Linked DNA regions of Homo sapiens: region 2 is linked to region 1. A link means that fine-mapping ties the variant in region 1 to the expression of a gene that starts in the linked region. Tissue or cell type: whole blood. Region 1 holds a variant in brackets; the other region holds the start of a gene. All regions are shown on one strand. Distances are from middle to middle.

Region 1 (5,864 bases):
GACTCTAGCCAGGTGGGGGAGACAGATGTATAGACACAATGCCAACAGTTTGGTTCCTCGACGGCTGGAGAAGGGAGTGATCGACCAGGGTTTCTGAAGAACCCCCTCCTGACGTGGCCACTCACCAGCTGACCTCAGGCCTGTCCCTTCCTTTGGCTGGCCCTGGACCTTCTCTGTCAACTCAGGCAGTTGGAGCTGGTCCCTGAGGGCCTTCCTGCCCTGAAGTCATGACTTGTGGGGAGCTGAGTTCTGGGAAATGCATCCTCTGGAGAGGCACCAGAGGCCGCGCATGCCTGAGTGAGTGTGGGGGTGCGCCCTGGCCTCACTAGCCAAACACCAACTTCATCTTCCCAGGCTACCCTGGCCCGAGCAGCTCCGGCTCCTTCCCTGCCTGCCTCATCCTCCCAGGCCACTGTCCAGGAAGCTGGCCTCTCTGCCTGTTCCCCACAGCCCCTGGGGGTGGGGCCAGAGTAGGGCAAAAAGGGCCTGGGCCTGGCCCAGCAGAGCCTCTGCCCCTCCTTCGGGGGCTCCTGTTCTTGTGGGCTGAGAGCTGCAGCCCTGCAGCCGGCCTGGCTGTGGCTCAGTGGTCAGGGCCAAGTGCAGAGCAAACACCCTGCCCACTGGGCAGCCATTTCACGGTCATTCCCAGGCTGCATGGGGTCCCCAGTCGGGCAACTAAGTGCAGATGTGAAACAACGAGCTTTCCAAGATCCAGGGATTTGACCCTTGGGAAAGAGACTCCCTAAGGGAACTGCTTCCTGTCACTCCCCAACCACCACTTTGAGAAATAATTTTCTCTCCCTCAACCTCACTGCCAGCCTCAGTCAAGAGCAAACCGAGGACTGGTAGTGGGAGCTCAGGGCCACCTTGGGATTCTCTGCTCTCGCTGCTGGCTGAGCCCAGGCAAGGCCCCTGCCCTCTCTGGGCTTCCATTTCCCTCTCCTGCTCCAAACTTGCTAGCTTCCTTCCCTATCTCAACATCATAGGGACCCTTCGAGATGGGAACTACTAATAGGGGAAATCATATGGGAAACCAGGCTGGGCGCAGTGGCTCACACCTATAATCCCAGTACTTTGGGAGGCCGAGGTGGGAGGATCACCTGAGGTCAGGAGTTCCAGACCAGCCTGACCAACATGGTGAAACCCTGTGTCTACTAAAAATACAAAAATTAGCCGGGCGTGGTGGCAGGTGCCTGTAATCCCAGCTACTCAGGAGGCTGAGAGGTAGGGGAATCACATGAACCTGGGAGGTGGAGGTTGCAGTGAGCTGAGATCCTGCCACTGCACTCCAGCCTGGGTAACAGAGTGAGACTCCATCTCAAAAATAAAATAAAAAATGACCATATCCTTATAGGAACCATTATTTTGAACTCAGAATCTCAGAAAAACCAGGATTTGGGGCCTGGAACTTTCTTTGTCTTATTTTGTTTTGTTTTGGATTTTTTGGGGAGACAGAGTCTTGCTCTGTCACCCAGGCTGGAGTACAGTGGCGCGATCTAGGCTTACTGCAAGCTCCGCCTCCCGGGTTCACGCCATTCTCCTGCCTCAGCCTCCCGCCACCACGCCTGGCTAATTTTTTGTATTTTTAGTAGAGATGGGGTTTCACCGTGTTAGCCAGGATGGTCTCCATCTCCTGACCTCGTGATCTGCTCACCTCGGCCTCCCAAAGTGCTGGGATTACAGGCGTGAGCCACCGTGCCTGGCTGGGGCCCGGAACTTTCTAAGGCAGAGGCGGCAGAGACAAAGAGGTGGCTGGAGGTGGGGCAGTGCCGAGCCAAGTCTCAGGACATCCCTACTGCCGAGCCTCCCCTCCCACAAAGTAAACCGGCAGGTGGGCAGTGCAGGCGGGGCCCAGCTCGGGTTTCACTCCTTCCCCGCTCTCGGGGACAATAAAATGCTCCCTTTGCCCTGGAAATCCCACTTGTATAAAATCCAAAAGAAGAAATAAGCTCTTATGTTCAAACAGGTTTGTTCCAACCTCATTTATAATGGAAAAATATTAACTGAAAAATTCCTTAGTATCCGACAATGGGGGAGAAGTTAACAGTTTGACCGGAGCTGAGTGACATGCAAAAGGGTGTTTGTGGAGTGCAGGGAGCTCCTGCTGTGTGTGTGGGAGGGTGGAGAGGGCATGGGGAGAGGAGCAGGGACCCCAGAGTCAGACTGTCTAGGTTTAAATCCTGTCTGCTCCTTCCTAGCTGTGTGACCTTGAGTCATAACCCAAAGCCCTCTGTACCTCCATGTCCCCCTCCATAAACTGGCACTGGGCTGGGCATGGTGGCTTATGCCTGTAATCCCAGCATTTTGGGAGACCAAGGCAGGTGGATCACCTGAGGTCAGGAGTT[A/C]GAGACCAGCCTGGCCAACATGGTGAAACCCCGTCTCTACTAAAAATACAAAAATTAGCCAGGTGTAGTGGCAGGTGCCTGTAGTCCCAGCTACTCAGGAGGCTGAGGCAGGAGAATCGCTTGAACCCAGGAGGCAGAGGTTGCAGTGGGCCGAGATTGTGCCACTGTGCTCCAGCCTGGGTAATAGGTGACAGAGCGAGACTCCGTCTCAAAACAAAACAAAACAAAAAAAAGGAGAGAGAGACTTGGGGGATGTGTGTGCCCAGAGGAAAATCCATGTGAGGACCCAGCAAGAAGGTGGCCACCCGCAAGCCAAGCAGAGAGGCTTCAGGAGAAACCAACCCTGCCAGCACCTTGATTTTGGACTTCCAGCCCCAGAACTGTGAAAAAATAAACATCTGTTGTTTAAACCACCCAGTCTGTGATATTTTGTGATGGCTGGCCTAGCAAACTAATACACATTACTAACACACAATAAGAGAAGCGTTTAATAGGGCGCTTACCACGTAATTGCATTGTGTTCTGACATTACATTTACGATCTCATAACCATGAGGAGGGTCCTGTCCTCCCATTTCAGAGATGAAGGAAACTGAGGCTTGGCTAGTGACGGAGAGGGCTGTGACTGGAGCCAGGACTGTGTGACTCCAAGGCCCCACCAAAGCCTCCTCCTGGGATGGACCATGGACTTTCCTGCCTCTGTGCTGTGCATACGCTCTCCCTTCTGCCTGGAATACCCTTCCCACCACTTGCCTCTCAGGACGAGTCCCAGTCGATTCTTCAAAACTCTTCTTGGCCCGGCAAGGTGGCTCACACCTGTAATCCCAGCACTTTGGAAGGCCAAAGTGGGTGGATCACTTGAGGTTAGGAGTTTGAGACCGGCCTGGCCAACATGGTGAAACCCTGTCTCTACTAAAAATACAAAAATTAGCTGGGCCTTGTGGCAGGTGCCTGCAATCCCAGCTATTCAGGAGGCTGAGGCAGGAGAATTGCTTGAACCTGGGAGGTGGAGGTTGCAGTGAGCCAAGATCACACCACTGCACTCCAGCCTGTGCAACAGAGTTAGACTGTCTCAAAACAAAAACAAAAAACAACTTTTCTCAAGCATCACCTCCTTCCCATGCTTTACCCGACAATCTCCTTTTGCAGATGTGCTGCTTTTCAGGGCTTGCGGCCAGTCTGTACTCTGTCACCATGGTGGTAAATGTCATCTCTCCTGTAGCATTTAGACTTTAGATGTGTCCATGTGTTTGCTGTGAACTCCTGGAAGGCAGGGGCTGTGTCTTGCTCTAGTTCCTATCACCCAGCAGGCCCAGAGGGGCTCCGCACAGACGCTTGCTGGCTGAGGTAGCCAGTTTGGCCTGGAGAGAGTATTCCCGCCTCAGGAGTGGATCATGAGGAAATGGAATCTCCTGCCTCCTTGTGGGGTGGGGGTTGGGGGAGGTGGATAAAAGAGAGGCTCCACCTGGCACGGTGGCTCGTGCCCATAATCCCAGCACTTTGGGAGGCCGAGGTGGGTAGATCACCTGAGGTCAGGATTTTGAGACCAGCCTGGCCAACATGGTGAAACCCCATCTCTACTAAAAATACAAAAATTAGCTGGGCACCTGTAATCCCAGCTACTCGGGAGGCTGAGGCTGGACAATCGCTTGAATCCAGGAGGTGGAGCTTGCAGTGAGCCAAGATTGTGCCACTGCACTCCAGCCTGGGGGAAAAGAGCAAAATTCCATCTAAAAAAAAAAAAAAGCGGATCAAGGTCCCTACTCTGGGCATGAGAGGAGGGATCCTTTGACACTCCTGGGAGCAGCAGTGTGGCAGAGGAGGAGGAGCAGGGCATGGGGTCAGCCACCCTCAGTCCATTTCCCAGGGTGTGGCCTTAGGCACGGTCACTACCTCTCTGGGCTTCTGTCTCCACATGTATGAAATGGAATCAGTCCCTCCTTCCACAGGTGTTAGGTCGAAGAAGGCACCTCTGGTGGTATCGGCACAGAGGCTGGACACTGGATGACTTCTTTGCTGGGACACTGAGGTAGGGGGCAGACCAGAGACAGACAGCTACTTGCCTAAGCTCACCCAGCAAGCTGGCTGAAGGTGGAGAACTGGCTTGTCCTCCAGTTGGTAGTTAACAGCTGTCTAGCAGGAGTGTTCTTGCTCCCAGGAGACGCTCCGTTGGCTGCCACAGAGGTAAGCGTGAGAGTGCGCTCAGAAGTGGCTGGGAGGCATGGAGAACAGAGGAGCAGGTTCAGGGTGAATTCCAGTGGGCATTCTCCAAGGGTGAGGTCACTGCCTCCAACTCCCTAGGGCTGCCTGAGACACAGGCACCACCAAGCCAGCTCCAGAGCAGGAGGAGGTGGTGGCAGGGACCAGGGCCAGGTCACAGGGCTGAATGTAAGGCCCTCAGCCTGGTACAGCGACGGGCCCCTCCCATGGTGCTGGGGTCCTTACCTTGGGAAGCCCGGTGTTTCCTGTTTAAGATGTGGCTGGGGGTAGGGGAAAGGAGAAAGCCACACAGATAACACTTCTGGAACTTCCAATCGGTGCCAGCGTGCTTCCACCTGCTGAGCCGTGACCTCATTTGCAGGGACTGTCATGAGCCCCAACTTGGAGATGGTGCAACTGGGGCTCAAAATGGTGAAAACCTTGTCCCAAAAGGAAAGCAGTATAGCTAATGAGCAAGAACAAAGAGAATTTGAAATTAAAGACATTGGGGTTCATTCTTTTCCCCTTTTTTAAAATTTATTTTTGGGCCGGGCACGGTGGCTCACGCCTGTAATCCCAGCACTTTGGGACGCTGAGGTGGGCGGATCATTTGAGGTCAGGAGTTTGAGACCAGCCTGGCCAACATGGTGAAACCCTGTTTCTACTAAAAATACAAAAATTAACCAGGCATGGTGGCAAATGCCTGTAATCCCAGCTACTCGGGAGGCTGAGGCAGGAGAGCTGCTTGAACTCAGGAGGCGAAGGAGGTTGCAGTGGGCAGAGATCATGCCATTCTACTCCAGCCTGGGCAACAGAGCAAGATTCCATCTCAAAAACAATAAAATAAATAAATAAAATTTATTTTTTATATTTTTATTTTTTAGAACAAGATCTCACTCTGTCACCCAGGCTGGAGTGCAGTGGTGAGATCACAGCTCACTATAGCCTCAAACTCCTGGGCTCAAGTGATCCTCCCACCTCACCCTCCCAAGTAGCTGGGACTACAGGCGCACACCGCCATGCCAGGCTAATTTTTTTTTAAATTTTGTGTAAAGACAGGGTCTTGCTATGTTGCCCAGGTTGGTCCCGAACTCCTAGGCTCAAACGATCCTCTTGCCTTGGCCTCCCAAAGTGCTGGGATTACAGGCGTGAGCCATCGTGTCCGGCCACATCGGAGTTCAAATCTGAGCTCTGAACTCCATTCATGCCAAGTTACTTAAGCCCTCCAAGCCTCAGTTTCCTTGTCTGTAAAATGGCGGTAACAATGGTCCCTGCTGTTGGGGTTGCGGTGGAGACTCAGTGAGAGGATTCATGTAGCACA
Region 2 (5,552 bases), 69 kb after region 1:
CTTCCGAGTTCAAGCGATTCTCCTGCCTCAGCCTCCTGAGTAGCTGGGATTACAGGCAAGCGCCGCCTGGCTATTTTCTGTGTTTTTAGTGGAGACAGGGTTTCACCATGTTGTCCAGGCTAGTCTTGAACTCCTGACCTCAAATGATCCTCCCGCCTCGACCTCCCAAAGTGCTGGGATTACAGGCGTGAGCCACCACGTCCAGCCACCTTAGTCTTTTCCATCTGCAAAATAAACAAGATCCTTGTTCTAAGCACTTTGTATAATGCCACACAAGTATTCAGACTTGCAAAAGTGCATTTATGTATATAGAGTGCTGAGAAAAAAAGATCTTTAAGTATATCCTGAAATTCAATTTTCCTTTCTCATTGTTTCAATTTTCTGCCATCAACGCAAATCCTGTGTGCAGTGCAAGCGGACATAAAGCCAGGCAGAAGAACTGCCAGAGGGCCAAGGAGGTCCCCACAGACCTCAGGCCCAAAGTTGCCATGTTAAATGTTCATGAATACTGCCAGGCACTGTTCTTACTGTTTACCACTCATTCATTCATACAGTCCTGCCAACAATCCTGTGAGGTAGGAGCCAATGTTATCCGCACTCTCCAGATAAGAAAACCAAAGCACAGAGAAATGAAGAAATTGCCCAAAGTTGAAATGCTAGTGGATGAAAAACGTGAACCAAAGCAGTCTGACCCCAGAGTCTGCACTCTGCATAATGCTATAGCCCTCTTGGGAATTAAAAAACCGGCGCTGTATAGCAGATGGCTGCCCGACACTTCTATAAAAAAACCTATGCATTTATCTTCCGTTGTAACCTTCTGAAAATGCTTAGAAGGCGAGTTCCTAGAGGAAAATTCACTACACAAGTATTTCTTGGAGGCCGGGCGCGGTGGCTCACGCCTGTAATCCCAGCACTTTGAGAGGCCGAGGTGGGCGGATCACGAGGTCAGCAGTTCGAGACCAGCCTGGTCAACATGGTGAAACCCAGTCTCTACTAAAAATACAAAAATTAGCTGGGCGTGGTGGCGGGCACCTGTAATACCAGCTACTCAGGAGGCGGAGGTTGCAGTGAGCCAAGATCCTGCCATTACACTCCAGCCTGGGCAACAGAGCAAGACTCCGTCTCAAAAAAACAAAAATCAAATGTTTCTTGGAGGCTGGAGAGCAATCAAAAGAACAGGTATGCTGAACTTAGTAAACTCTCCTCAAAGCCCCATGCTGGGGAGATTGAGGCTTCCTTCAGAGATGACATTTGGGTGACAGCAACACAGGATGAACCTAGAAGTTTCATCTTTCTAATAGAAACTATAGGAAGAGGACAGAAGAAAAAGGGTGGTGGTCTCAGAACAATTTGTATTAAATAAATATTGCTGAGCTCCTACGTGTTAGGCCCTATACCAGATAATTTAACACCATTGACCACCCCCCCACCCCTACTTTAGAGGCAAAAATTTGAAGCTCAGCCTACTCAAGCAGCTGACCTCATCATTTCAAAACAGATTTGATTTCCAGGGTTGCCTGCTGTCAGTCCAGCCTTCTTTCCATTATATTACAGCTGGGCAGCAGCCCGCAAAGATCAGGGGTTTGAGACCGTACATCATAATACCAAGACAACGAGTCTCAAAACACACTTTAAAAAATCGGGTTCTGTCAGAAGCTCAAGAAGGGAAGAGGCCCGAGGCTCGACCTGCATCACCTCCCTGGAAAGCCAGGGATGAGATACCCTGGCTTTAATAAATGTTTTTTTTTTTAAGAGCAGAGCGGAACCAGGAGGAGAAACTGAGCCGCTCAGCAAAAACGAAGTAACAGCTGTACTAGTCACAGGGGCAGGATAGGGAGGTTCCAAGAGGGCACTCAGAAGGGGCTCTGTGGTTGGCAGGCCACTACAGATCATAAGCCGTCCATCGCTGAACAGGGGGTGGGGTAGATTTAAGATCAGAGATCAAATCTACTTCTCTATCCTAGCCTCCAGTTTCACAAAAAAGGAAAGATAACCTATGCACTGTGAATTCCTAAGAACAGGGGCCAAACACCGCTCAGCCTGGTACCCCTAAGACCTCACTCAAAAAGTCAGGGAGTTTTCGGCCACTTCAGAAAGACTTTGTTGTTACCCCTCCGTCTTAACCCAGGTGAGTTAAGTGACAATCAAATTCACCCAGCTCATGGGCACTGAGCAGGGCCGAGGGCCAAGGACCTCACCCACAAGGTCGTGTCCCGCGTTCAGTAGCGTGCGGGACGCGGGGCCCCCGAAAGTGGATTCCTGCCCCGCCCAGCGGAGGGACGGCAACAGCAGGAAGGGACTAAGAGAGGTCTCTTCCGGGAGGCCCCCCGAAGGCTGGACCTAGTCCGAACCGGCTCCGGAGGGCCGCAGGAACCTATGAAACACGCCGCTCACCTGCAATGGCCTCGGCCGGCCGGGATGGCAACAGATGGTGCGTGCCGGGGACCGCGTTAGCAGCAGCACTCTTGAGAAACCAGGAAAAGAGGAAACATGCGCGCGCAGCGGGCGCCGCCGTAAACACGACCGGCGCTGTCGTAAACTGCTCTCCCGCTTCCTCTGGGTTGGGCGGAAGAACTCACGAGCCGTAAAGCGAAGGTCCACCCGGAAATCCGTTACTGCGTTTCGCCAGGCGTCCTCATTAGCCTCCGAGGCGCCGAGACGCGAGAGGTGTGATTGGCACTACGTCAGGCGGTATCCGGGGACGCCCAAAGAGGGCGTTCATCACTGAAACTTGGCGGCCGCGCAATCGAAGCTCGAGGCGGGGAGCGACTGGCGCCCTTCTGTGTCCCACAATGCTTCGCGGCGCGCCTCAGCCCCCATGTATCCCACCGTCACCCGCGACTCCCCGCCTGTTCTACCTGCCTGCTTAATGTGAAACTCAGCGCAGGGGAGGTCCGTCGGTGTCTTAGGCGGTCCTTATTGTTACTCCTCCGCCTTTATAGTTGTGGAAACTGAGGCTCAGAAGTGCCAAGTGACCTGCCTAGATCAGACTGTTAGTTTAGGGTTCTAACCGCCAGAGTTCAAACCATACTTCCGCAGTTCTCAAACTTAATTGTAGGACAGGGATTTCTGGAACAGTGTTTTTATTTATTTTTATTTATTTTTTGAGACAGGGTTTCGCTCTGTCGCCCAGGCTGAAATGTAGTGGCAGGATCACGGCTTATTGCACCCTCGACTTCTCAGGTACAAGCGATCCTCCCAGTTCAGCCTCCCGAGTCGTTGGTGTACACAGGCACGCACAACCACGCCTGCCTAATTTTTGTATTTTTGGTAGAGATGGGGTTTTGCTATGTTGCTCAGGCTGGTCTCAAACTCCTGAGCTCAACAGTCCACCCACTGGGGCTAGGGTTACAGGCATGAGTCACCGTACCCGGCCAGCTAATGATTTTTAAAAATTTTGTAGAGACAGCGTCTCACTATGTTGCCCGGGCTGGTCTTTAACTCCTGGTCTAAAGTGGTCCTCTCGCCTCAGCGTGCGGAGCAGCTGAGGCTACAGGTGCATGCCACCATGCCTGGCTAATTTTTTTTTTTAGACGGAGTCTTGCTCTGTCTTCCAGGCTGGAGTGGAGTGCAGTGGCGCTATCTCAGTTCACTGCAACCTCCGCATCCCAGGTTCAGGTGATTCTCCTGCTTCAGTCTCCCGAGTAGCTGGGATTGCAGGCGTGTACCAACATGCCCGGCTAATTTTCCTTTTAGTAGAGACGGGGTTTCACCTTGCTGACCAGGCTGGTCTCGAACTCCTGACCTCAGGTGATCTACCCACCTCGGCCTCCCAAAGTGCTAGGATTACAGGCGTGAGCCACTGCGTCCGGCTGCCTGGCTAATTAAAAAAAAAAAAAAAAACTTCTGTGGAGACGAAGTCTCATCATGTTGCCAAGGCTAGTCTCAAACTCCTGGGCTCAAGCAGTCCTCCTGTCTCGGTCTCCCAAAGTGCTGGGATTACGGGCGTGAGCCACCACACCTGACCAGGATAGTATTTTTAAAAATTCAGATTCTGGGTCTCATTTTGATAGATTATACGGATATGTTTATGCTGGAGCCCAAGAGCTCCGCATTAGCTGTGATTCTGAAGTGACGACTCAGGAACTGCTTTACTACAGTAGATAACAGTGCTGTCCTCTCAGCAACTCCCAGGCTATGGAGTTCCTCCTGGTGTCTTTCTTTCGGAATTTTAAAACAATGAAAGATAATCTGAGGGCATGACTTTATTCAAACCTCAGATCCTTTCTACCTGACATAGGTTTCCTTAGCCGCCTAGTATGTCTCCTTTATTAGAAAATATACCTGAAGTCTAGGCTCTGCCACATTCTTTTTTTTTTCTTTTCTTTTCTTTTTTTTTTTTTGAGACGGAGTGTCGCTCTGTTGCCAGGCGGGAGTGCAGTGGCGCGATCTCAGCTCACTGCAACGTCCACCTCCTGGGTTCAAGTGATTCTCCTGTCTCAGCCTCCTGAGTAGCTGGGAATACAGGCATGCGCCACCATGCCCAGCTAATTTTTATATTTTTAGTAGAGACAGGGTTTCACCATGTTGGCTGGGATGGTCTCAATCCCTTGACCTTGTGATCCCCCCGCCTCGGCCTCCCAAAGTGTTGGGATTACAGGCATAAGCCACTGTGCCCAGCCAGCTCTGCCACTTGATAGCTATGTGTGGCCTTCACATTCCTTGCCTTGTTTCCTTATTTGTAAATTGAAGATGATAATTAGAGGGCGCTGTGGGGGTGAAAATAAATGTGTGTGAAAGGACTTAGTAATTCCACTTATCATTTGGGTGAACTTGGACAGGTTATTCAACCTCTTTTTTTTTTTTTTTTTTTTTTTGAGACAGAGTCTCGCTCTGTTGCCCAGGCTGGAGTGCAGTGGCGAGATCTCGGCTCGCTGCAACCTCTGCCTCCCAGGTTCAAGCAATTATCTGCCCCAGCCTCCCGAGTAGCTGGGATTACAGGTGCCCACCACCATATCCGGCTAATTTTTTGTACTGTTAGTAGAGACGGGGTTTCACCATGTTGGTCAGGCTGGTCTCGAACTCCTGACCTTGTGATCCACCCGCCTCAGCCTCTCAAAGTGCTGGGATTACAGGCGTGAGCCACCGCACCTGGCCTATTCAACCTCTCTAAACCTGCTTATTCATCTGAAAAATGAGAATGCTAATAGCAGCACCTATTTCCATAAGCTCTCTCCCAACTGCTCATTTTTTTTTTTTCCTAATTTTTGTTAATGGTGTCTGGTGAATTGTGCCCAGTGGAAAGCCTTGTAGTCATCACTGGTAGTTCGTTTTTCCTTCCCTCCCACATTTAGTTCTTCACTATGTTCTCTTTATTCTACTTGCACAATGCATCTTGAATGCTATCACTTTTTTTTTTTTTTTTTTTTTGAGACAGAGTCTTGCCCTGTCACCCAGGCTGGTGTGCAGTGGCGCAATCTCAGCTCACTGCAACCTCCGCCTCCCGGGTTCAAGCAATTCTCCTGCCTCAGCCTCCCAAGTAGCTGGGATTACAGGCGTGTGCCACCACGCCTGCCTAATTTTTTGTATCTTTAGTAGAGATGGGGTTTCTC

What was found. PIP is the estimated chance that this variant, and not a neighbour inherited with it, causes the effect.
Region 2: EIF3D starts here. The variant in region 1 is fine-mapped to the expression of EIF3D in whole blood (INTERVAL, PIP 0.92).

The regions. Positions count from the first base shown.
Region 1 is chr22:36,457,712-36,463,575 of GRCh38, forward strand. No RefSeq gene overlaps it. Among named protein-coding and RNA genes, the nearest start is that of TXN2, 21 kb to the right of the region's middle. RefSeq lists an enhancer at 3,739-4,271. The variant A/C (reference allele first, on the strand shown) is at 2,346.
Region 2 is chr22:36,526,682-36,532,233 of GRCh38, forward strand. EIF3D (eukaryotic translation initiation factor 3 subunit D) reads right to left here and starts at 2,485. Exons shown (of 15, transcript NM_003753.4): 1 at 2,395-2,485. RefSeq lists enhancers at 1,996-2,045, 2,356-2,755.